Linked DNA regions of Homo sapiens. The protein of the gene in region 1 interacts with the protein of each later gene in a pairwise test. Each region holds a gene or a part of one and is shown on either strand. Other genes may lie near its edges.

The links. The genes of interacting proteins can lie anywhere in the genome.
Region 2: the proteins of LGALS4 (region 1) and SLC28A3 interact in binary tests that used the Homo sapiens proteins (3 or more experiments, as listed by UniProt).
Region 3: the proteins of LGALS4 (region 1) and RFX6 interact in binary tests that used the Homo sapiens proteins (3 or more experiments, as listed by UniProt).

Annotation. Positions count from the first base shown.
Region 1 is NC_000019.10:38,802,356-38,811,008, forward strand, and holds part of LGALS4 (galectin-4), read right to left. Parts: intron 6,594-8,653; coding exon 6,389-6,593; intron 4,241-6,388; coding exon 4,106-4,240; intron 1,541-4,105; coding exon 1,514-1,540; intron 1,426-1,513; coding exon 1,387-1,425; intron 1,197-1,386; coding exon 1,167-1,196; intron 50-1,166; coding exon 1-49. UniProt on the Homo sapiens protein: Galectin that binds lactose and a related range of sugars. May be involved in the assembly of adherens junctions.
Region 2 is NC_000009.12:84,329,896-84,338,548, reverse strand, and holds part of SLC28A3 (solute carrier family 28 member 3), read left to right. Parts: intron 1-8,653. UniProt on the Homo sapiens protein: Sodium-dependent, pyrimidine- and purine-selective. Involved in the homeostasis of endogenous nucleosides.
Region 3 is NC_000006.12:116,928,452-116,933,524, forward strand, and holds the end of RFX6 (DNA-binding protein RFX6), read left to right. Parts: intron 1-307; coding exon 308-520; intron 521-2,879; coding exon 2,880-3,055; 3' UTR 3,056-3,710; downstream 3,711-5,073. UniProt on the Homo sapiens protein: Transcription factor required to direct islet cell differentiation during endocrine pancreas development. Specifically required for the differentiation of 4 of the 5 islet cell types and for the production of insulin.

The DNA.
Region 1 (8,653 bases):
TTCTTCGAGCTGTGAGCCCTCCTTGCAGCCTCCCGAAATATGGCACAGGCTGTGGGAAGAGAACGGGGGGTCCCATTCTCTCTCAGCTTAGCAGAGCCAGATGTGGGAAGAAATTTTCTTTTTCTTTTCTTTTCTTTCCTGTCTTTTTTTCTTATAAGAGATGGGGTCTTACTCTGTCACCCAGGCTGGAGTGCAGTGGCATGATCAAGCCTCACTGCAGCCTCAAACTGCTGGGCTCAAGCAATCCTCCCATCTCAGCCTCCCGAAGTGCTGGGATTACAGGCGTGAGCCACCACGCCCAGCCTTGCAGGAACAAAGGAACAAATTTTGTTTTTTTTTTTAGGCAGAGTCTCCCTCTGACGCCCAGGCTGGAGTGTAGTGGCATAATCTCAGCTCACTGCAACCTCTGCCTCCTAGGTTCAAGCAATTCTGCTGCCTCAGCCTTCCTAGTAGCTGGGATTACAGGTGTGCGCCACCACACCTGGCTAACTTTTGTCATTTTAGTAGAGACGGGGATTCATCATGTTGACCAGGCTGATCTGGAACTCTTGACCTCAAGTGATCCACCTGCCTTGGCCTCCCAAAGGGCTGGGATTATAGGCATGAGCCACCGTGTCTGGCCAAGAATAAATTTTCTTTTTCTTTTCTTTTTCTTTTTTTTTTTTTTTTTTTTTTTTTGAGATGGAGTCTCGTTCTGTCACCAGGTTGGAGTACTGTGGCACGATCCCGGCTCACTGCAACCTCCGACTCCCTGGTTCAAGCGATTCTCCTGCCTCAGCTTCCTGAGTAGCTGGGATTACAGGCGCGCGCCACCATGCCCAGCTAATTTTTGTATTTTTAGTAGAGACAGAGTTTCACTATGCTGGCCAGGATGGTCTCGATCGATCTCCTGACCTCGTGATCTGTCCGCCTTGGCATCCCAAAGTGCTGGGATTACAGGCGTGAGCCACCATGTCCAGCCCAAGAACAAATTTTCTGAGAGGTCCCACTCCTCCTGGAAAACATCCCCAATTCCTTCTGCTCCCTAAACCTGACCACGAACTCTATCTACCCTTCCCCTACCTCCCACCCCAAAACCCTCAGCCCACTCCCTTTCTGGCTGTCTCAGATTCCCTGGAGATCCGTGCCCCCTCCCCACCATCCATCTCTGTTTCCCCAAGCCATACCGGGTTGAAGGTTGGGGGTCCTTCCATGGTCTGTGAAGTGAGGAAGAAGCGATATTATTCTCCAAGAGTCGACAGATATCTATGACACACCCATTAGACTCCGGCGTTTCTCTAGGTGCTGGGTTAGTACACCTTGGGCTGCAACCCCTCTTAGCTCCCCCTACCCCAATTCTCACCATTCCCACTCCTCACCCGGGGCCCTCCCAGCCCTCCCACTCACGGGCAGGCTGTTCAGCTGTTGATGGCAATGTCCGGGACCCTGAACGATGGACAGAAGGCAGGAAGGGTGAGAGGGGCTGAGGGACCCCACTAGGGAGGAAGACCCTCACCTATCAGCAAGTACTTACAGGGTAAGGTGGCATCATCGGGGGTCCCTGTGGGCACAGAAAGAGAAAGCGGTTATGAGAGGGTCCCCAGATTTGCGACTGAAAGATGTCGAGAGTGCCTGCCCTGGGGTGGCCCACCACCACCACCACTATGCCAGAGAACTCTGGCATCAAAGGGTGGCACCCCGATCACAGATTCACGGAGAGGGGCACCCCATGTTCTGGGATCGCTGATGCCCAGTGAGTCACCCCAAAGCTTTAGGACAATGCTTGGTCCATTTTGTTCTCTGTGCCCTTCCCCTTGCTGTCTTCCTGCTGTCCCGGGGCCCTCACTCGCTGATCTTGATCTCAGTTTCTGCCTCTGTCCCTGTGTCTCTGCCTCTCTCTCTGTCTTGGCCACACCTCAGCGCAGGGGCTTCCTTCTGCCAAACACTTTTATTTATTTATTTGAGATGGAATTTCGCTCTTGTTGCCCAGGGTGCCGTGCAGTGGCACGATCTCTGCTCACCTCAACCTCTGCCTCCTGGGTTCAAGTGATTCTCCTGCCTCAGCCTCCGGTGTAGCTGGGATTACAAGCATGCGCCACCACGCCCAGCTAATTTTGTATTTTTAATAGAGATGGGGTTTCTCCATGTTGGTCAGGCTGGTCTCAAACTCCCGACCTCAGGTGATCCGCTCGCCTCACCCTCCCAAGTCTAACACCTTTAACTTTTACTCTCTCTCTTTCTCTCTGTTACCTTCTCTTTTCTCCTCCTTGTAATTAACTCCATTCTGCCTTGACTTCTATTCTCAGCCAGCTATTCTGAAGGCCTTTTAAAAGTAGCTTTATATAGCCGGGCGTGGTGGCAGGTGCCTGTAATCACAGCTACTTGGGAGGCTGAGGAAGAATTCCTTAAACCTGGGAGGCAGAGGGTGCAGTGAGCTGAGATCATGCCACTGCACTCCAACCTGGGCCACAGAGCAAGACTCCATCTAAAAAAAAAACAAAAAACAAAAAACAAACAAACAAATAAACGTAGCTTTATAAGCCGGGGGCTGTGGCTCACGCCTGTAATCTCAGGACTTTGGGAGGCTGAGGTGGGTGGATCACCTGAGGTCAGGAGTTCAAGACCAGCCTGGACAACATAGGAAAATTCCTCCCCTCTGTCTTTACAAAAAATTTAAAAACTAGCTGGGGCTGGTGGTGCGTGCCTGTAGTCCCAGCTACTCAGGAGACTGAGGTGGGAGGATCACTTGAACCCAGGAAGTCAAGAATACAGTAGGCTGTGATTGCACCACCACACTCCAGCCTGGGTGACAGAGCCAGACCCTGCCTCAAAAATAATAATAATAATAATAATAATAATAATAATAATAATAATATTGATAAACTCAATTTAATTGTATGTTATTTATTTTTAATGATTGTGTTAAGCAACCTCTAGGGAATTCATTCACTATCGTGTGTTCTTTGCCTTTCCTTATCCTCACTTTCTGACTCACCTTACACACTTCCTCCTACTCCAGGAAGCACTTCCTTCCTGACCCATGACTAGTCAAGCCCTTCCTGTAGGCTCCCAAACCTCCTGTATACTCCATATCCCAGCCCCTGCCCCTCTGCCTGTGCCCTCCCTATCACAGACCTGACCATTTCTGGGCTGTCACTCTCTGATGCCATGTCTGTGAGCCCAGTGAGGTCAGGGCCCAGAGATATCTCAGTCATTCCTGTCTCCAGCCCTGGGCCTGACCCCTCTGCCTGCCTCCACCCACCCTCCTGTCCTGGCCCTGATCCCTCTGTCTGGGCCCAAACCCAACTGCAACCCTTCAGCCAGGGCCTCCCCATCCCGGCCTTTATCCCTTGCAGTGATGGGTCTGTCTTCCCAGTGGGATCCCTTGATCATCACTGGGCTCTTGGCATAACTCAGCAGAGGGAGATGCTTGGGAAATAAATGAATGTGGAATGCGCTGGGCACCATGGCTCACACCTGTAATCCCAGCACTCTGGGAGACTGTAGCCAGCAGATCACTTGAGGCCAGGAGTTCCAGACCAGCCTGGCCAACATGGTGAAACCCCGTCTCTACTAAAAATACAAAAATTAGCCAGATGTGATGGTGGGTGCCTGTAATCCCAGCTACTTGGGAGGCTGAGGCAGGAGAATTGCTTAAAACTGGGAGGCAGAGGTTGCAGTGAGCCAGAATCACACCACTGTACTCCAGCCTGGGAGACAGAGCAAGACTCCATCTCAAAAAGAAAAAATAGACCAACTGCGGTGGCTCACGCCTGTAATCCCAGCACTTTGGGAAGTCGAGGTGGGTGGATCATGAGGTAAGGAGATCGAGACCATCTTGGCTAACACAGTGAAACCCTGTCTCTACTAAAAATACAAAAAAATTAGCCGGGCGTGGTGGCAGGCTCCTGTAGTCCCAGCTATTTGGGAGGCTGAGGCAGGAGAATGGCGTGAACCTGGGAGGCGGAGCTTGCAGTGAGCCAAGATCGCGCCACTGCACTCCAACCTGGGCGACAGAGTGAGACTCCGTCTCAAAAAAAAAAGAAAAAAAGAAAAAAAGAAAAAAAATGAATGTGGAACTGAATTTAGAAAGAAAGGACGCAAGAAGGGATGGGACCCCTCACACCTGGGGCCGGAGGGGCTGGCCTCCGATGAAGTTGATTGATTGAAGTTGCAGATCCCCATCCACTTGCAGGTGGGTGACCATCTGTAGGGGAAGCCGGTGCCCGTACTCATAGAAGGGATTTCCATTTACCACCACCTGGAGGGCAGAGATGGGAGGTCAGGAGTCAGCACCCATGATCCTGGGAAGGTACAAACAGGAAGCAAGGGCAGGGCACCCTGGCTCACGCCTCTAATCCCAGCACTTTGGGAGGCTGAGGGGGGTGGATCATTTGAGATCAGGAGTGTGAGACCAGTCTGGCCAACATAGTGAAACCCCATCTCTACTAAAAATACAAAAATTAGCCAGGCATGGTGGCGGGCTCCTGTAATCCCAGATACTCAGGAGGCTGAGGCAGGAGAATCGCCTGAACCCGGGAGGTGGAGGTTGCAGTGAGTGGAGATCACGCTGCTGCACTCCAGCTTGGGTGACAGAGCAAGACTCTGTCTCAAAAAAAAAAAAAAGCAAGGATCAGGGATCTTTTTCATTGGGAGTCGATAGTCTTGGGGATGAGCTGGGACAGCCTCAGCATCAGGAACCTTGGAGTCCACAGCTCAGAGGTCAAGCTAAGGTCAAAAATCAGCTCACTGGCCGGGCGCAGTGGCTCATGCCTGTAATCCCAGCACTTTAGGAAGCCAAGGTGGGGGATCATTTGAGATCAAGAGTTCGAGACCAGCTTGAGAAACATAGCAAGACCCCGTCTTTACAAAAATATACAAAAATTAGCCGGGCGTGGTGGTGTGCACCTAGAGTCCCAGCTACTCCGGAGGCTAATGTGAGAGGATCACCTGAGCCCGGGGAGGTTGAGGCTGTAGTGAGCTGTTTGCATCACTGCACTCCAGCCTGGGCAACAGAGCGAGACCCAGTCTCAAGAGGAAAACAAAAAGTACACGTTTTGCAAAAAACACAAAGTGGTAGGAGGAAATACACATGAAATGTATTACAAGACTCTCAGCAGTAGGGTAATGGGACTAAGGAAAAGCGCTAAAAGAGGATTTTTAAAAATAGGCAGGAAACGGCCGCCCTTCGTCTGGGAGGTGAGGAGCGCCTCTGCCCGGCCGCCCCGTCTGGGAAGTGAGGAGCGCCTCTGCCAGGCCGCCCTGTCTGGGAAGTGTACCCAACAGCTCCGAAGAGACAGCGACCATCAAGAATGGGCCATGATGACGATGGCGGTTTTGTCGAAAAGAAAAGGGGGAAATGTGGGGAAAAGAAAGAGAGATCAGATTGTTACTGTGTCTGTGTAGAAAGAAGTAGACATAGAAGACTCCATTTTGTTCTGTACTAAGAAAAATTCTTCTGCCTTGAGTTGCTGTTAATCTGTAACCTTACCCTGTGTTCCCTGAGACATGTGGTGTGTCAACTCAGGGTTAAATGGATTAAGGGCTGTGCAGGATGTGCTTTGTTAAACAGAGGCTTGAAGGCAGCATGCTCCTTAAGAGTCATCACCACTCCCTAATCTCAAGTACCCAGGGACACAAACACTGTGGAAGGCCGCAGGGCCCTCTGCCTAGGAAAACCAGAGACCTTTGTTCACGTGTTTATCTGCTGACCTTCTCTCCACTATTATCCTATGACCCTGCCACATCCCCCTCTCTGAGAAACACCCAAGAATGATCAATAAATAAAAATAAATAAATAAATAAATAATAAAATAAAATAAAATAGGCAGGAAAGAAGGAAAAGAAAAGAAAGAAGTTGACATAAAAAGTGGGGATGGAAAAAGGAAATAAATGAAGGAGGGAAGGAGAGAGAAGGAAGAAGAGAGGAGGGAAGGGGGAAGGAAGGAGGGGAGGAAAGAGGAGAGAACAGAGAAAGAGGAAGGAAAAAGAGGAAAAAGAAGGAAGGGGCTGGGTGTGGTGGCTCACGCCTGTAATTCCAGCACTTTGGGAGGCCAAGGAGGGCAGAACACCTGAGGTCGGGAGTTCGAGGCCAGCCTGGGCAACATGGTGAAACCCCATCTCTACTCAAAATACAGAAATTAGCTGAGCGTGGTGGCACGCGCCTATAATCCCAGCTACTCGGGAGGCTGAGGCAGGAGAAGCTCTTGAACCCAGCAGGCAGAGGTTGCAGTAAGCTGAGATCATGCCACTGCACTCCAGCCTGGGCAACAGAGTGAAACTCCATCTCAAAAAAAAAAAAAAAAAAAAGAAAGAAAGAAAGAAAAGGAAGGAAGGCGGGAAGGAAGGAAGCAGCCAAGATGGCGCCACTGCACTCCAGCTTGGGAAACAAGAGAGAAAGCATGCAGACCTTGTAGTGCTCAGCCAGGACTATGAAGACCAGCTCAAAGGCGGCACCCTTTTTGAAGGGCATGCTCCTCTTCCTCTCCTCGCTGCCCCACTTCCCGCCCTGCAACGTGTTGAAGACCACCTTGTCCCAGCCGTCAAACCGCGGATTGAAGTGGAAGGCGACGTCTGAGCCCGGATCCTGCCCAACCACAAAGTTCACGAAGAACCTGGCGGGACACAAAGGGCTCATTCCCCTGGTGCCACCTCCCGGGGCCTGGGGGCCTCCTCCAGGAAGCCCTCTCCCTGCCGCCCTGTCCTCGGCCTCCCTGGCCCGGACCTCAGCACCAGCTCTGAGGGGCAACCTTGGCACTGTGGGCCACAGCGTGGAGAGGACCTGAGTTCTGAGGGGGGCAGATTCCCACCACCACACCTTCGCTCACAGCCTTTCCTTCTTTTTTTTTTTTTTTTTTTTTTTGAGATGGAGTCTTGCTCTGTTGCCCAGGCTGGAGTTGGAGTGCCGCGATCTCAGCTCACTGCAACCTCCGCCTCCTGGATTCCAGTGATTCTCCTGCCTCAGCCTCCCAAGTAGCTGGGATTACAGGCGTGCACCACCACGTCCGGCTAATTTTTGTATTTTTAGTAGAGACAGGGTTTCACCATGTTGGCCAGGCTGATCTCAAACTCCTGACCTCAGGTGATCCACCTGCCTCGGCTTCCCAAAGTGCTGGGATTACAGGTGTGAGACACCGTGCCTGACATTTTTTTTCTTGAGACAGGGTCTTGTGTTCTCACCCTGTCCCCCAGGCTGGAGTACAGTGGCCACGATGGTGGCTCACTGCAGCCTCAACCTCCTGGGTCAACTGATTCTCCTGCCTCAGCCTCCCTAGTAGCTGGGACTACAGGTGCATGCCACTATGCCTGGCTTTTTTTTTTTTTTTTTTTTTTTTTTGTAGAGATGGGGTCTCACTATGTTGCCGAGGCTGGTCTCAAACTCCCGGGCTCAAGCAATCCTACCACCTCGGCCTCTCAGAGTGCTGGGATTACAGGTGTGAGTTGCTGTACCCAGCCCACCTTGCCTTCTTAGACCACCTCCTCCACCCTCTTCCCAACTTCCAGTTATGACTGTTACAAGTCTGCCACGGGCCAGGCCCTGTCCTATGCACTTTGGGTCTCCCTGCTCCCCTCCTGGCCCTGAAGATCATTTCCCTCATGCAGCCAGAGGGTCCCTGTGTACACCCATGACGCATCATATTCCGCACCCCTGGGCACACCAGCATCCTTGAAATTACTCCCCAGGACAGGCCTGTCTCAGGGCCTTTGCACTGGCTGTTCCCTCTGCCTGGAAGGCCCTTCCCTCAGCTGTCCCTGGGGATCCCTCTCTCCGTTCCTTCTGTTCTTTGCTGATATGTTCCCTTCCCAGGCAGGCCTTCTCTGGCCACCTTTTTAATTTTTTTGAGACAGTCTCCCTTTGTCACCTAGGCTGGAGTGCAGTGATGCGATCTCAGCTCACTGCAAACTCTGCCTTCAGGATTCAAGTGATTCTCCCACATCAGGCTCTCAAGTAGCTGGGATTACAGGCACCTGTCACCATGCCTGGCTAATTTTGTATTTTCAGCAGAGATGAGATTTCGCCTTTTTTTTTTTTTTTTTTTTTTTTTTGAGATGGAGTCTCGCTCTTTCGCCCAGGCTGGAGTGCAGTGGCGCAATCTTGGCTCACTGCAAGCTCCGCCTCCTGGTTTCACGCCATTCTCCTGCCTCAGCCTCCCGAGTAGCTGGGACTACAGGCACCCGCCACCATGCCCAGCTAATTTTTTGTATTTTTAGTAGAGACGGGGTTTCACTGTGTTAGCCAGGATGGTCTCGATCTCCTGACCTCGTGATCCGCCCGTCTCTGCCTCCCAAAGTGCTGGGATTACAGACGTGAGCCACCACGCCCAGCCAGATGCGATTTTGCCATTTTGGCCAGGCTAGTCTCGAGCTCCTGACCTCAGGTGATCTGCCTGGCTTAGCCACCCAAAGTGCTGGGATTACAGGCGTAAGCCACCATGCCCGGCCAGGCCACCCTATTTAAGGGGACAATTTAAAGGGAACCTCTGTCCGCACATACACTCCCCATCTCCCTTCCCTCCTCATTTTCTTCATAGCACTTAATATCATCTGACATCTTACATATTTGACTTTTTTTTTTTTTTTTTTTGAGACAGAGTCTCACTCTTGTTGCCCAGGCTGTAGTGCAATGGCACGATCTCGGCTCACCGAAACCTCCACTTCCCAGGTTCAAGTGATT
Region 2 (8,653 bases), on another chromosome or scaffold:
AGAAGGAAAAATGAAAGGAAGCTTCCTCCTAGTTCTGTAAAATTTCCTGTCATCCTTACTCATTGGATTGATTGAAATTTGAATTTCTACATTTCAAAATCAAAATAGTGAAGACAATTTGTCTTTCAAGAGAATCAGAGGCCTCATAACTCCTGCCAAGTTAATAAGTATGAGTCTTACCTTGTTTGACATTCAGCTCTCCTGCTACATTATCTTCTTTAAGGAAAATTAATTGATTGTAAAATATGTGCTACTTCACTCGCATTATTAAATATGCATTAACATGCCACCAGGACTTCCAAATAAGTTAGGATGCTTACTTATTCACCTTGTCCTAGTCTGTGAATTGTGCTAGAAATTCATTTTTCTTCTTCAAATATTAAGAGTGCCCTTGGTAGACCAAAGTTCTAATTTTACTAAGTAGAACTACTTTCACAGCTTGAAATGCTGATATGGGTTCCCAAAAGGCCTGTGCCTGTAAGACCTGGTGCAGGTGCAATGGTTATGCATATCTATGGATTACCTGGACAGGCTCTCATCTGGACTGTTCCTCAAAGAAGGGAGCACCAATTGCTGTTTTCATGGAGCTAGTACTCCAGTGGGAAAGGTTAAACAGGAGCACAAAGTCAGTGATATGGGTTATAAGAGAGAAATGATCTCACCTCCAAGAAAGGATTTCACAGCTAGAGCACACTTCATACATGAGAGTGGATTTTGTAACCAACGATAGAAATGAATGTTAGGGTTTTTTTTTTCTAATCTCATTTTATTGTACCTCTAAACGTTTTCTATGAATAAGGAACTTATTTCTCATATGGCTGAGGATGGAAATGACTTCATTCAACAGTAGTTGCAAATAAGACGTTTGCTATTTATGAAGGAAGTTCGGATTGGCATTTAAAGTATTGCGTGTATGTGGAATATCTAAGGATTTCTTATTTTATTTTAAAATATTTTTTAAACCTTAAAACAGTCAGCAAACTGGCTCTTGATTTTGTGCAAGATGTTCCCATCAGTTCAGGAAAAATAACTGCCTGAAAGGACAAAGTACACACACACACGTGTGCAAACACTCACACCCACATACGCATACACACACGCGCGCGCACACACACAGGCTAGCATCCCCAGGCCTCAAGGTTCTAAGCAGGGCATCTCAAACCCAGCAGAGTATCATACCAACAACACCCACACCTAAAAACAGTGACTGGGTTATTTCTATTTATTCAGTAGAATCATCAACTGCCCCCTAGATATGGCCGCCTCTAAGAAGGGATACCAACTCAAGAAAGAATAATATGCTCTTCTTGCCCTCAAGGAGAAGGACAGGCAGAAATAAGCATGCAATTACAATATAATTGATGTTAAGGAAAATGGCGGAGGTTTGCACCAAGTGCATTGTATTCTTATATTTATTATTTTTTATATTTTGTCTTGCTATCTTACCAGGGCTGGTCTGAAACCCTGGCCTCAAGCAATCCTCCTGCTTTGGCCTTCCAAAGTGCTGGGATTACAGTCATGAGCCACAACACCCAGCCAGCACCAAGTGCATTGTAAATAATATATAGCTGGAGCTGAGCTGACTGAGGAGTCTGTGACAGCATCACCAAAGGAGGGAGAATTTGATTAGGGCTTTAAGGATGGTCAGGTCACAGTAGGAGGTGGGGTGGGCAGAGCACTGCAAGCAGAGAGAACTATCTGTACAGACTCAGAACCCTAAAGGAGAAGAGCACATGAGCCTGGGATGGAGGAAGGGAACACGGTATAGGGAAAGGGGGCAGGCTGGCATCAGGTCAGGTGGCCTCTGCGTGTGCTAAGGCATTTTAGAAGGAATCGCTCAGAATTTACGCAGTCAAATTGTGATTTTTTTTTTGAGACAGGGTCTCACTCTGTCACCCATGCTGGAGTGCTATGGTATGATCTCAGCTCACTGCAGCCTCAACCTCCCAGGCTCAAGCAATCCTCCCACCTCAGCCTCCTGAGTAGCTAGGACTACAGACATGCGCCACCACACTTGGCTAGTCTTTGTTTTGTTTTGTGTTTTAGAGATGAAGTCTCACCCTGTCGCCCAGACTGGAGTGCAGTGGCATGATCTTGGCTCACTGCAACCTCCACCTCCTGGGTTCAAGCAATTCTCCTGTCTCAGCCTCCTGAGTAGCTGAGTTTACAGGCATATGCCACCACACCTGGCTACTTTTTTTGTATTTTTAGTAGAGACAGGGTTTCACAACGTTGGTCAGGCTGGTCTCAAACTCCTGACCTCAAATGATCCGCCTGCCTCAGCCTCCCAAAGTGCTGGGATTACAGGCGTGAGCCACCGTGCCCGACCTAATTCTTGTATTTTTTTGTAGAAATCGGGTTTCACCATGTTGCCCAGGCTGATCTCAAACTCCTGAGCTCAAGTGATCTGCCTGCTTCAGCCTTCCAAAGTGCTGGGATTACAGGTGTGAGCCAACTGCACCAGGCTGATTTTTTTTTTTTTAATATTACTTTGGTGGCCCCATTGAAAGTGCTTGGAAAAGGAGAGGGATTTGTGTGTGGCTGGGACATCCGTTGGGAAGTTACTGTCATAATCCAAACCAGGCTAAAGGCAGTGGATGCAGACACTGGGACGGAGGTACTAATACTGATGAGGTGACCCCTCCACAATGAAATTCAGGAGTAAAGATGAGGGCCTAAATGCTGCTCTGGCTCTGAAGATTTCTGTTTTCTCCTCTGTAAAAGAGCATAATAATGGTACCTATCTTGGGATTGTTGAAATAATTAAATAAGCTAATATTATATATGTATAATGGACATTTTATACACACACACACACACACACACACACACACACGTATATACATACTTGTGAAAACAGTGCCTGGCACATAGTATGAACATAACAATAGCAGCTTTTGATGCTGAGCAGCTTAAGGAAAGTGTGGAGTCAATGTTTCCAGCTTGGGATGTCAACTTGGAAGTGATTCCCTTTGTTTATTTATTGCTGTTGTTTTAAATAGAGACAGGGCTTCACTCTGTCACCCACGCTGAAGTGCAGTGGCACAATCATAGCTTATTGCAGCCTCAAACTCCTGAGCCCAGGCAATCCTTTGACCTCAGCCTCCTGAGTAGCTGGGACTACAGGCACGTGCTACCACAACTGGCTAAGTTTTTTTATTTTTTATATTTGTAGAGACAGGGTCTTGCTATGTTGCCCAGGCTGGCCTCTAGTGATCCTCCCATCTCTTCCTGGGTTTCCCAAAGTGCTGAGATTACAGGTGTGAGCCACCTCACCCAGCCTCGGGCAAGGCTTTATTTAGGTAGAAAATCTAGGAATAAAGTTAGAGCAAAAAAGAGAGTGAGTTCTCTTTGAGGCCTGTTGGTTGAAATTAAGTTGACTCCAGGCATCTTCATGAAGGGGTAGATGAAGTAGGAAGCTTGTAGCATACGTTCACCTGGAGCTCAGAAGAGGACACACATTTGGGAGCTGTTAGCATAGATATGAGCGCGGATAAGACCACTGTGAGGGAAGCCTGGGAAACAGTAGCGCTTAAGGAGTGGGGAAGTTAGAGATGTCAGAGAATGAAGCAGAGGGCCACAGGGAGAGAAAGAGCAGCAGAACCAGGAGAGGGGCGATCTGGAGAAGTCAAGGGAAAGTAGAACCACAAGTCAACAGAAAAGACTCCGAAAGGACAGAGGAGTCTATAGAGTGAGGCCACGGGTTCACTTGACTTGCCAGCTAGGAGGTTACTGGTGACGCTAGGGTTGGGGAAGGAGGAGAAGTTTGTGTTATGAGCGGGAGTTAGGCTAGGAAAAATGGTAGCAGAATGAACGCTCTTCTGGTGCAGTGGTGGTGCTAGGGAGGGGCGGGGAAGGGGAAGACCTAGGGCAGGCAAAGGCAGTTGTGGGGAGGTGTTTTTATGTTAAAAAAAAAAAAATTCGTTGTGAAATACAACATACAGAAAAATACATAAAAACAAATATACAACTTATAAGGCGAACTGTCACTCAGGTCAAGAAACAGGATATTGCCATCCCTCAGGGTCCAGCCCTACACATTTCATCACTGCTGCCTCCCTTCCCTGGGGTAAACCCAACCAGGGGTGACTACTGACCCAAATGTGGGGCAATTACTTCCTTGCTTTTCTTTATACCTTAACTTCTAATTATGAATCCCCAAGCAGTACCTTTGCCTGGTTTTGAACTTTATATAATAGAAACACAAAATGTATTCTTTGCTTATATTGAAACTTTTTTTTTGTTTTTTTGAGACAGAGTCTCGCTCTGTTGCCCAGGCTAGAGTGCAGTGGCGTGATCTTGGCTCACTGCAACCTCTGCCTCCCCAGTTCAAGCGATTCTCCTGCTTCAGCCTCCTGAGTAGCTGGGAATACAGGCATGAGCCACCAGGCCCGGCTTGTATTTTTAGTAGAGACGGGGTTTCACCCTGTTGGCCAGGCTGGTCTCAAACTCCTGACCTCACGTGATCCACCCGCCTTGGCCTCCCAAAGTGTTGGGATTACAGGCGTGAGCCACCATGCCTGGCCATCAGCTCTCTAAGATTCACATGGTGTTGCATGTAACTGCAGCTCATCCCATTTCATAATGCACAGGATTCTGCCATGTAAATATTCCACAACTTATACATTTTGCTGCTAGTGGACATTTGCGTTATTAAGTTTGGGGTTTTTGGAGCTTCTACAAACATTGCAGCTAGGGACACTGTTATCCATGCCAGGGGGAGTATCTGTAATAAATTTACTCTGGGGTTGTACTTAGGAGTGGAATTGCTAGGCCACTGGAATAAACATATACTTTCAACTTTGCTGATAGTGTCAGATTGGTTTCCTAAGTGATTTTACCAATTTGCATGCCTATCAGCAGAGTGAGTATTCCCATTTCTCATCATTATTCAGCTGACCTTTTAATGTCAACCATTCTGGTGGGTGTGTAGCAGTATGTCATTGAGTTTAATTAAAATTTTCCTGTTATTGGTTGTTAGATGCCAACTTTTTAAATATTTGCTCAACTTTCTTGCCCATTTTCTCTACTGGATTTTTTCCATTTTTATTTGAAAGAGTTCCTTAGATGTTCTGGTTACAAGCCTATGAAAGGAAATTAAATTTTGGGACCCCAAACTCATTTAACCAAAGGGAAAAGTCAAGCTGGGAACTGGGTCACGCATACCTATCTCCCCCTTTTGGTTCCTAAATAAGATGGCTACAAGATGAAAAGCTACACGCTTCCCCCATGTTTTGCCCACAAGGAAATTCCTGGTGAGCTATAAAAACTTCACCATGGCAATGTAATTGATAACTTATCTTTACAGGTGCAGTCACCCCAGATACAAATGCATATCTGATTGTTCCCCTACCCCATTTCGTCTGTATTATCTTATGTAAAATGCAGATTCTCCACATTTTTCCTTTGCCCCCTTTGTTTACATGAAAACTGTGTGCTTCTCACTATCCCGCCCTTTCTCCTTTAAATTTGGAGCCCTCAAAATCATCTCTGGAGAAAGGGATAGACCTGTCTCCCAGGCAGTTCCTTAACTTTGGCAAATAAATCTGCTAAAATGATTGAGACTTGTCTCATCATTTTCCTCGATTGACAAGCCCTTTGTCAGTTATGATTTGTAAATACCTTCTACCACTGTGAAGCCATCTTTTACTCTAATGGAATATTCTGAGGAACAAAAGTTAATTATATTGGTCCCATTTAGGAAACATTGGGACAAAAGTTAATTATATATGGTCCCATTTAGGAAACGTTGCTTCTCTTTCCTGTATCTTGTCTAAAATATCTTTTCCAACCTGCAAAATCATGAAGATTTTTTTTTCGAACAAGTGTAACTCTTTATTAAGATAAAATTGTTTTTATTAAAGAAATAGATAAAAATGATTAAGTACAATCAAATGGCTCCAAAAGCCTTACAATGAAAGCAACAGTCCTGCCAGTTGTTCTTTCCAGAGGCAAGCACTTCTCATTCTCTCAGTTTTTCCTTCTGGTAGTTACCTTCATGGGTTTTTCCAATTATTATTTTTTTAGTTTTTCAAGTGAATGCATATATTAATACATGAAATTTTTAAAAGCCTCTTCAGTTTATAATGCATCCTACCAGTCCCCTACCCTATCCCTCCTAATTCTCCAGAGCAATGACTTTTAACTCTTTTAGCAATGTCCTCTATTTTTTTCTCACATAACTACTTAGGCATTTCTTGATTGTTTTATACATTATATAGTGATTTCTTGATATGACAGATGAGGATTTAGCTCTTACACCATCACTGTCTTCACTTTTCCTCCCATATTGTCCCAAAGTAGTTACCAGATTTAGAGGCTAAGCAGTCATCACTTCATTATGACAATGTCCATATTGCTCATTGTTGAGAACAACAGGGTATTATGCTCTAAAGTCATTAGGATATTTTCTAAAAGCTTATACTTTCATTCACATTGAGGATCTCTATTCCCCCTGAAATTGAGTTTAATGTATAGTGTAAGGTAGGAGTCAAGTTTGCTTTCCACACGAACATCCACTTATTTTGGCATTATTATTTTTTAAATTTACTTTTAACACCACTCAGTGATCATCAACATTGCTTTAAAAAAGAACCTTTTCCCCACTCCACAGATATTTTGCCACGTGTCCATATTTGGGAGAGGCTTTTTGGAACAGGGCAACTGAAAGATTTTTCCAAACTCAGAGGAGATGGGGAAGAATCCAAAGAGATGGAAGTTAACAGCAACAGAGGTCAAAACAGTTCAGAATTTCTAAGAGGAAAATGCAGGAATGTTTTTTAACACATTTATTAAAAGGCATCTCTTGGAATCCCAACTCAAGTTTCCTCCTCCCTGTGAATAAGCAATCAATCTTACCACAGCTGCTCTCAGAGGCACAGAACCCAAGCTTGCTCTGAAGTTAGTTGGGTGGAACTCACTTACGAAAGTCTTGGGAGAGGACTAGGCTGGGGAAATGGGCCTCACTCTGCACAAACACACAGGAAAGGCTGAGTTACTCCATGAGTAAGCCAGTCAAGCAGGTTTGGAGAGTTTGTTAAATGGAGTTTACAATTTGGGAGATCATGTAAGTGTAAGTCCATCAGGGATCCAAACCTGCTGGAGTACAGGTGTAGACTTCTTGTCAAGCACGTACTTTGAATACAAAAGTTCTAAGGTAGGAAGTAACTATGTTATGTAGGGAAGAAGAATATTGTTTCTCCTTAACCCACTAGCCTGGGAAGTCAATATGAATCACATTGAGTACTCTTTCACATTGCTCAAGAGGCGCTCGGCTGGAGCTTCCTATATTCAATTAAAACACACACACACAAAAACACATGACAATAATTCGCTTTTGGGAAGGAGGTTAAAAAAGAAAAGTATATTCTCTACTCTTTCCTCAAGTTTGCATGATCACACCTAGACTTATTTTTAGGGGAAAACAGTGTAGGGGATTGTAAACCAAGTCACTTCCATGGCATCTCAGAGAGAGAGGGTATAAGGATTTAGTTTTTCCTCATTCAAACACTCCTGAAGTGATTCCCCTTGAAATTGAGGAGCCACTTACTCATCAGTGTTGAGGCACTGGAAAGAAAATAGAAAATAATTAATAATGTAGATAAAGATACATTTTTGCTGAGGGCTAAAGCAGAACTTTCTAATATGTAACACTAGCCAGATATGTAATTTAAAACTTTTCTGCAAGCCCATTAAAAATGCAAAATAAAGTAGGTATAACTCTTCACCTTATTTTAACTATATTTTATGGAACCTCATATATTGAAATTAATGAAATAATTTATATTTGTTTCATACCAAGTCTTTGAACATCCAGTGCATATTTTAAACATATAGTACATGTCAACTCTAATGCTACATTTTTATCAGAAATACTTGATCTGTTTTTAGATTTCATAAAATGTATATTTGTAAAAAGTAGATTCATAATCAAGTTGTTCTAAACATGCCTGTTTTTCAATACATGGATCTAATGTTCAGTTTTTAATTTAAATTTAAATTAGTTAAAATTAAATTCAGGTCCTTAGTCATATTAGTCACATTTCAAGCACTCAGTAACCACTTGCCACTGATGGTTATTCTATTGGATCACCCACGTAAGCATGTGTTTTTGGTTTTAGAGTTCATACACACACACAGATCTGGTTATCCTTCCTCTTTAAGGACCTGACCACCAGATTTATGCCAAAAAATTAAAGTAACAACTTTACATTTATTTCTGTAATATCAGTAGTAATATCTCCTCTTTCATTCATGAATTTAGTTATTTGTCTTCTCTCTTTTTTTTCCTTGGTTTCTTTTTTCCTTGACATTTCCTTGTTGGGAGGTTTATGGTTAGCAATTCAATCTCTTCACTTGCTATTAGTTTTTTTGAGCTTTTTTTTTCCCTTAAGTAAGTTAAGAACCAACTTTTGGTTTCATTGATTCTCTCTTTTGTTTTTCTAGTCTATATTTCATTTGTCTCCACGATAATCTTCATTATTTCTTTCTTTCTGCTAACTTTGGATTTAGTTTGTTGTTCTTTTTCTAGTTCATTACAGTAGAAGATTGGATTATTGATTTGAGATCTTACTTCTTGATAATATAAGCAATTACAATTATAAAATTCCCTGTAAGCACTGCTTTAGCGATATTCATAAATTTTCGTATATTT
Region 3 (5,073 bases), on another chromosome or scaffold:
GACAGAAGTGTAATCTGGTCTTAAAGTTAATACAATTCTTATGTCTTAAATTATGTATTATGCTATAATTATTGTATTAAATTATGTATGATGCTACAATTCTTATGTGTTAAAAAACACAAAAAACAGCACAGTAAACCTTATCCATGTACAAGCACAAATCCAGTTCTGTAGCATGTATAGATACACATGTAATACTTACAGTTTGATATCTTTAGGACGTCACCTCATTACTTTGTCACTTTTTTCCTTCCTGAAAGTTCTTTGTAGTAAGTTAACAGCAAATTCTCAACATTTTCTGTTACAGGATACTATGGAAGCAACATAAACTACCCAGAGTCTCACAGGCTCGGATCAATGGTGAATCAGCACGTTTCTGTCATCAGCAGCATTCGTTCACTGCCCCCCTACAGTGACATCCACGATCCACTTAACATTTTAGATGACAGTGGTAGAAAACAGACCAGCTCGTTTTACACAGACACATCATCTCCAGTTGCATGTCGAACTCCAGTCCTAGGTAAATTATTTTAGCAGTTCTTGAAAACATTTTAAGAAGTTGTTAACCTCAGGTATGCAACATTACTTGAGGGAGATATGCTGAGGTGAACTGAGCAAGCATGTTTCCACGGTTGATTTATTACCTTGGATCTAAAGTTATATTTTTTGTATCTGACTACACAGTTAGTAACAGTTTTTCATTTCTTATTCTGTATATCTCTATTATGCAACCTACTGCTAGATCTGTTACTTTTTACAAAAAAAATAGCTGGTATCTATTAAGTATGCAAAAGATTAATATGACCTGTCAAATGCAGTCTAAAACTGTAAGTTTTAAAAGGGCAGTAATAATATCCTTTTCTCACTCTTGATTAGTGTTGGACCCAGTTGTAGTGCCAAGAGATATCTTTAGGCCTCATGATCTCCATCAGTATCCAAAAATCACTCCAAGATTAAAAAAAACTGGTGTCCTGTGATGGGTGCTACTAGCATTTTCTCATTCTTATGTAAAATGTGATTCAACACCTCTGTAGAAAATGTTGCCATTTTTATTGCTCTCTAACATATCATGTAAGTAAAAATAAGAAAAACGTGTGCTTGCCGTGAAGCCTCCTGGAATCTTCTTCCAACCAGGTTACATTTCTTAATCCTCATCTATGAAGAAATTCTGCAATAATAATTAGTATGTTATTAGTAATAACATAGATTTAGTCACTATAGATTTAGTTTCTAAAAATACTAATAAGATTTCACAGGGCAAGTATATATTCACTAAGTATCAAAGCAGAGTGTTAATATTTATATGAGATGGTTAAAGTCTTCCAATGAGATTGATTTCAGACTAGCATAAGTAGAGGGCATTGACACGCAACCAGAGCATAAGGGAAAATGAAATCAATTTCATCTCTCCTCACTCAGTGTACCTTCCCAATAATTCAATAGGAAGTACTCCTTCTCTTCCTGTCACTGTCACACATGCTCCCTGAGCAGAATCTAGCAGCTCATCTTCTGCTATCTGCAAATGGTCATTGCTTCTAGGTTACTCTAATGAAGCAGAAAATTCCACTTCAGGAAGTTTTCTCACCATGAGACTAAAATGTACTGTGTTGCTATTGTTACTATTAGTTCTGTTTACCTGAAGAGATAGTGGAAGCTTTGACGAAACATAGGTTAAGAGTAGGGTGGAGTCTAAGCTTTAGTTTATCAGAGCTGGCTTACAAGTAGATTACAAAGTGTGCTGCAGGGTAAAATGAGGGGATAGAATAAGTGGATAAGTAGTGCAAGGAGAATTGAGTTCAACTATTTCTTAAGTATAAAGCCTGGTTCTTAGACAGAGAGCACGTCATGTCAGCAATAAGAAGGCAGCAACCATATATGAGAGAAATACAGGGCTAGTGAGCCAGTTAATGAATTTTATTGAGAACCGACTAGGAGCCAGACCCCATTCTAGATGTGAGGATATGGTGGTGATCAGGCCATAGTTCTTGCCTGTAAGAAGTTTACATTCTAGTAGAGGGACAGTAAGGCAATAAATACATGAGCAAATGCATTAAAAAGATAATGTCAAGTACTCTGAACCTGATTAAATAGAGTAAAATGACAGACAGTAAAGGAGGAGCTGCTTTCGGTAGGACAGCTGAGAAAGGAATCCTGAGGCAGAAACATTTGAGTTGAAAGCTGAGTGATGAGAAGGAGGCAAAGATGTGAAGATCTGAGGGAGGAGTTCCAGGCAGAAGAAACAGTGAATGCAGAACCGCTGAAATCAGAATAAATTTGAAAAAATCAATGGGCAGAGAGCAGGCCAGTGTGTCTTAAGCATGTTGAATGAAGGAGAGAGTAGAGCAAAATAAATAAAAAATCAGGGGCCCATCTACATAGGGTAAGATGCTTGGTTCATGTTCCAAGGGTATCGGAAGCCACTATGGCATTTGAGACGAGTGAAAGTTTGATCTACTCTTCAGCAATATCATTCTGGTTGCTCTCGGGAAGGTGAGTGGGTGAAACAAAGGTGGAGATCATGGGACCAGTCAGGAGGCTGCTGTGTTGGTCCAGGAGAGAAAAGATGGTGGTTTGAACTACAACCGTGAAAGTGCAGATGGAAAGAGGAGGTTGATTGGGGGATATATTTTGGCGGTAGCACTTAAGTTGAAATGGAGTTTTCTTTGTGAAATATGTAGAGGAAATAATTTCTGGGAGACTAGCAAGTGGGAACAAATGGAAGAAAAAATGATTGCTCTGGTAAACCATACAGACTCAAATTTAGAATAGGTATGTGTGCTAAGTGCAAAAATAAATACAGGGTATTAAAATGAGTGGCATTTGCAGAGAAAAGAAAATGTCAATCAATTTTCAATTGCTGATTATATTTTCCCTTACAGCTTCCAGTTTGCAAACCCCAATTCCTTCTTCCTCATCCCAATGTATGTATGGAACTTCCAACCAGTATCCAGCTCAAGAAACCCTGGACTCCCATGGAACAAGCAGTAGAGAAATGGTGTCCTCTTTACCACCTATCAACACTGTGTTCATGGGAACAGCAGCTGGAGGCACTTAAACCACCAATGTGGGAGGGGGTGCTAAAACTTTAAAAAAAATCTCTACTGTGCAAATATCATTATTCACTCAGACTTCCATAAGAGTAAATAAAAATGAATATGCAGTGGCTGACATTGTTTTAAAGTCACTGGTACTATGGACAACTCCATAGTGAATGGAGATACTTGCAGAGCTTGTCATGCACACTAAGAGTTTAAAATGTGAGCTCATTATTAATCATAGTTTCAAAATTATCAAATAAAACCAGTGAAGATCTGAAGATGCAAACATTTCAACTATGAAGATTTACATTTCACTTTCTAATTTATTAAACATCTGTGTGCCTTTTTATCTTTGGTTTCTTTTAAAAAGTATATTTAATGCCTTTACAATACCTTTAATTTATTAGGATCTCAGAATCATTGTTTACTATCCCTTATTTGACAAAAAGTCAAATGTGTATGTTCTACCTCCAACGGAAATGTTTACAAGGTCAAGACTTAATTCAATTCAGACAAGACCAAAGTTGCTTGACTTCAATTCCTGTGCATTAGTGTGATGATTTCTGTCACATAGCAGCATTCCGATTCTATGTAACTGAATGGAGATGATAAGTGCTTTCCCCTCTTTATTTAAAAAAGATTAAAAGGAATAAAAGAAATAATGTATGGAAATATTTTTAAAGGCTTGGTGCTCTTGGGGCTGGTACTGTTTCTGAAGAATGCTGGGGATTTACTCTTTAATCTCAGCTCCTTTGGAAATGAGATTAAGGAGTCAAGTAGTGTGGTTAAACACTATAATTTAAAAACATTTGCATATCATATCCATGCCTATACATATAAAGAAATTGTGAATTGTAGACTATTTGAACCTTTTCAGATTTAGAAGCAGTCTTTTACCAAGTACTTTCTTATACATTGAAAGTCAATGAGTGTTCAGGGATTAGCTAGATGCAAAGCCTAATTCAGAAGTGAAGGAATCATTACATATAAATTAATACAATTTGATAACACTATCTATCTTTCTACCTCTGTTTCTTTTTCTTTTCCATATGTCTTCACTGAAAGGTCTGTTGTAAAGTTCCTGGCCTGTGGTAGGAGACTTCCATAAACTTTACAGGCTTCTCCTATAGTCTTATGACAAGCCTCATATTATTTGTATTAAGGATTAGGTTACACTATAAACCCCAGGTACATCGTAAAAGGATCTATAAGACCCAGATACTCATTATACATCATGATGGAATTTGGTAAAACAAACTGTGGAATTTTTTTCAGCAAGCAATAAACAATTATCTGTGGACCTGTCAGAGTATTGCTACCATTTGCTTAGTTGTATGTTCAACAGTATGCAGTTTATAATTTAATTAATTGAACAGAAAAAGATTATAGCAGTAACAAATCACAAAGAATAGCAAATGTTCTATTCTTTGATCTAGAAATATTGTAGAAATACAGAGGAGAAAATTAATAAAGACTTGGAATTAAGTAGTAAACAAAACAGCTTTAAAAAGCGTTTGGCCATAAGTCTTGAAAGTTAACCAAAATTTTAATGTATACTAATTAAATACATGTTCAGCCTCTATGTGTCAGACACTTCATTATATAACAACATGGAAGATACAAAGATGGGAAAGACACTGTCATACCTTATACATTTTTGTGTAACAATGTAGGGGTAATGTGATAGAAAATAGAAGCTCCTAGAGGATTTTTGAGTAGAAAAGCAACGTGGGGAAAGTGATGTTTAGGGAATATCTAACACTAGTTGGAGAGAGGGGCTGAATTGGATAGCGGAGAAATTAGTCTGAAAAGGGGGCTATTTGGAGGTTGTTTCTCTCATCTAGATGTCCGGTGGATAAACACAGAGAATACTTGGAAGCAGAGGGAATGAGATCAGGGAGAGAGAAAGAAGCATCATTTCAAAAGAATGTATTTAAGGATTTTCTCTAACCCTGTTTGCAAAGGATTTCCCTACCCTATTTGTAAAGCATTGCAGTGTAAATAATTTGCCATATATTGATGCCCTTTTTGTAAA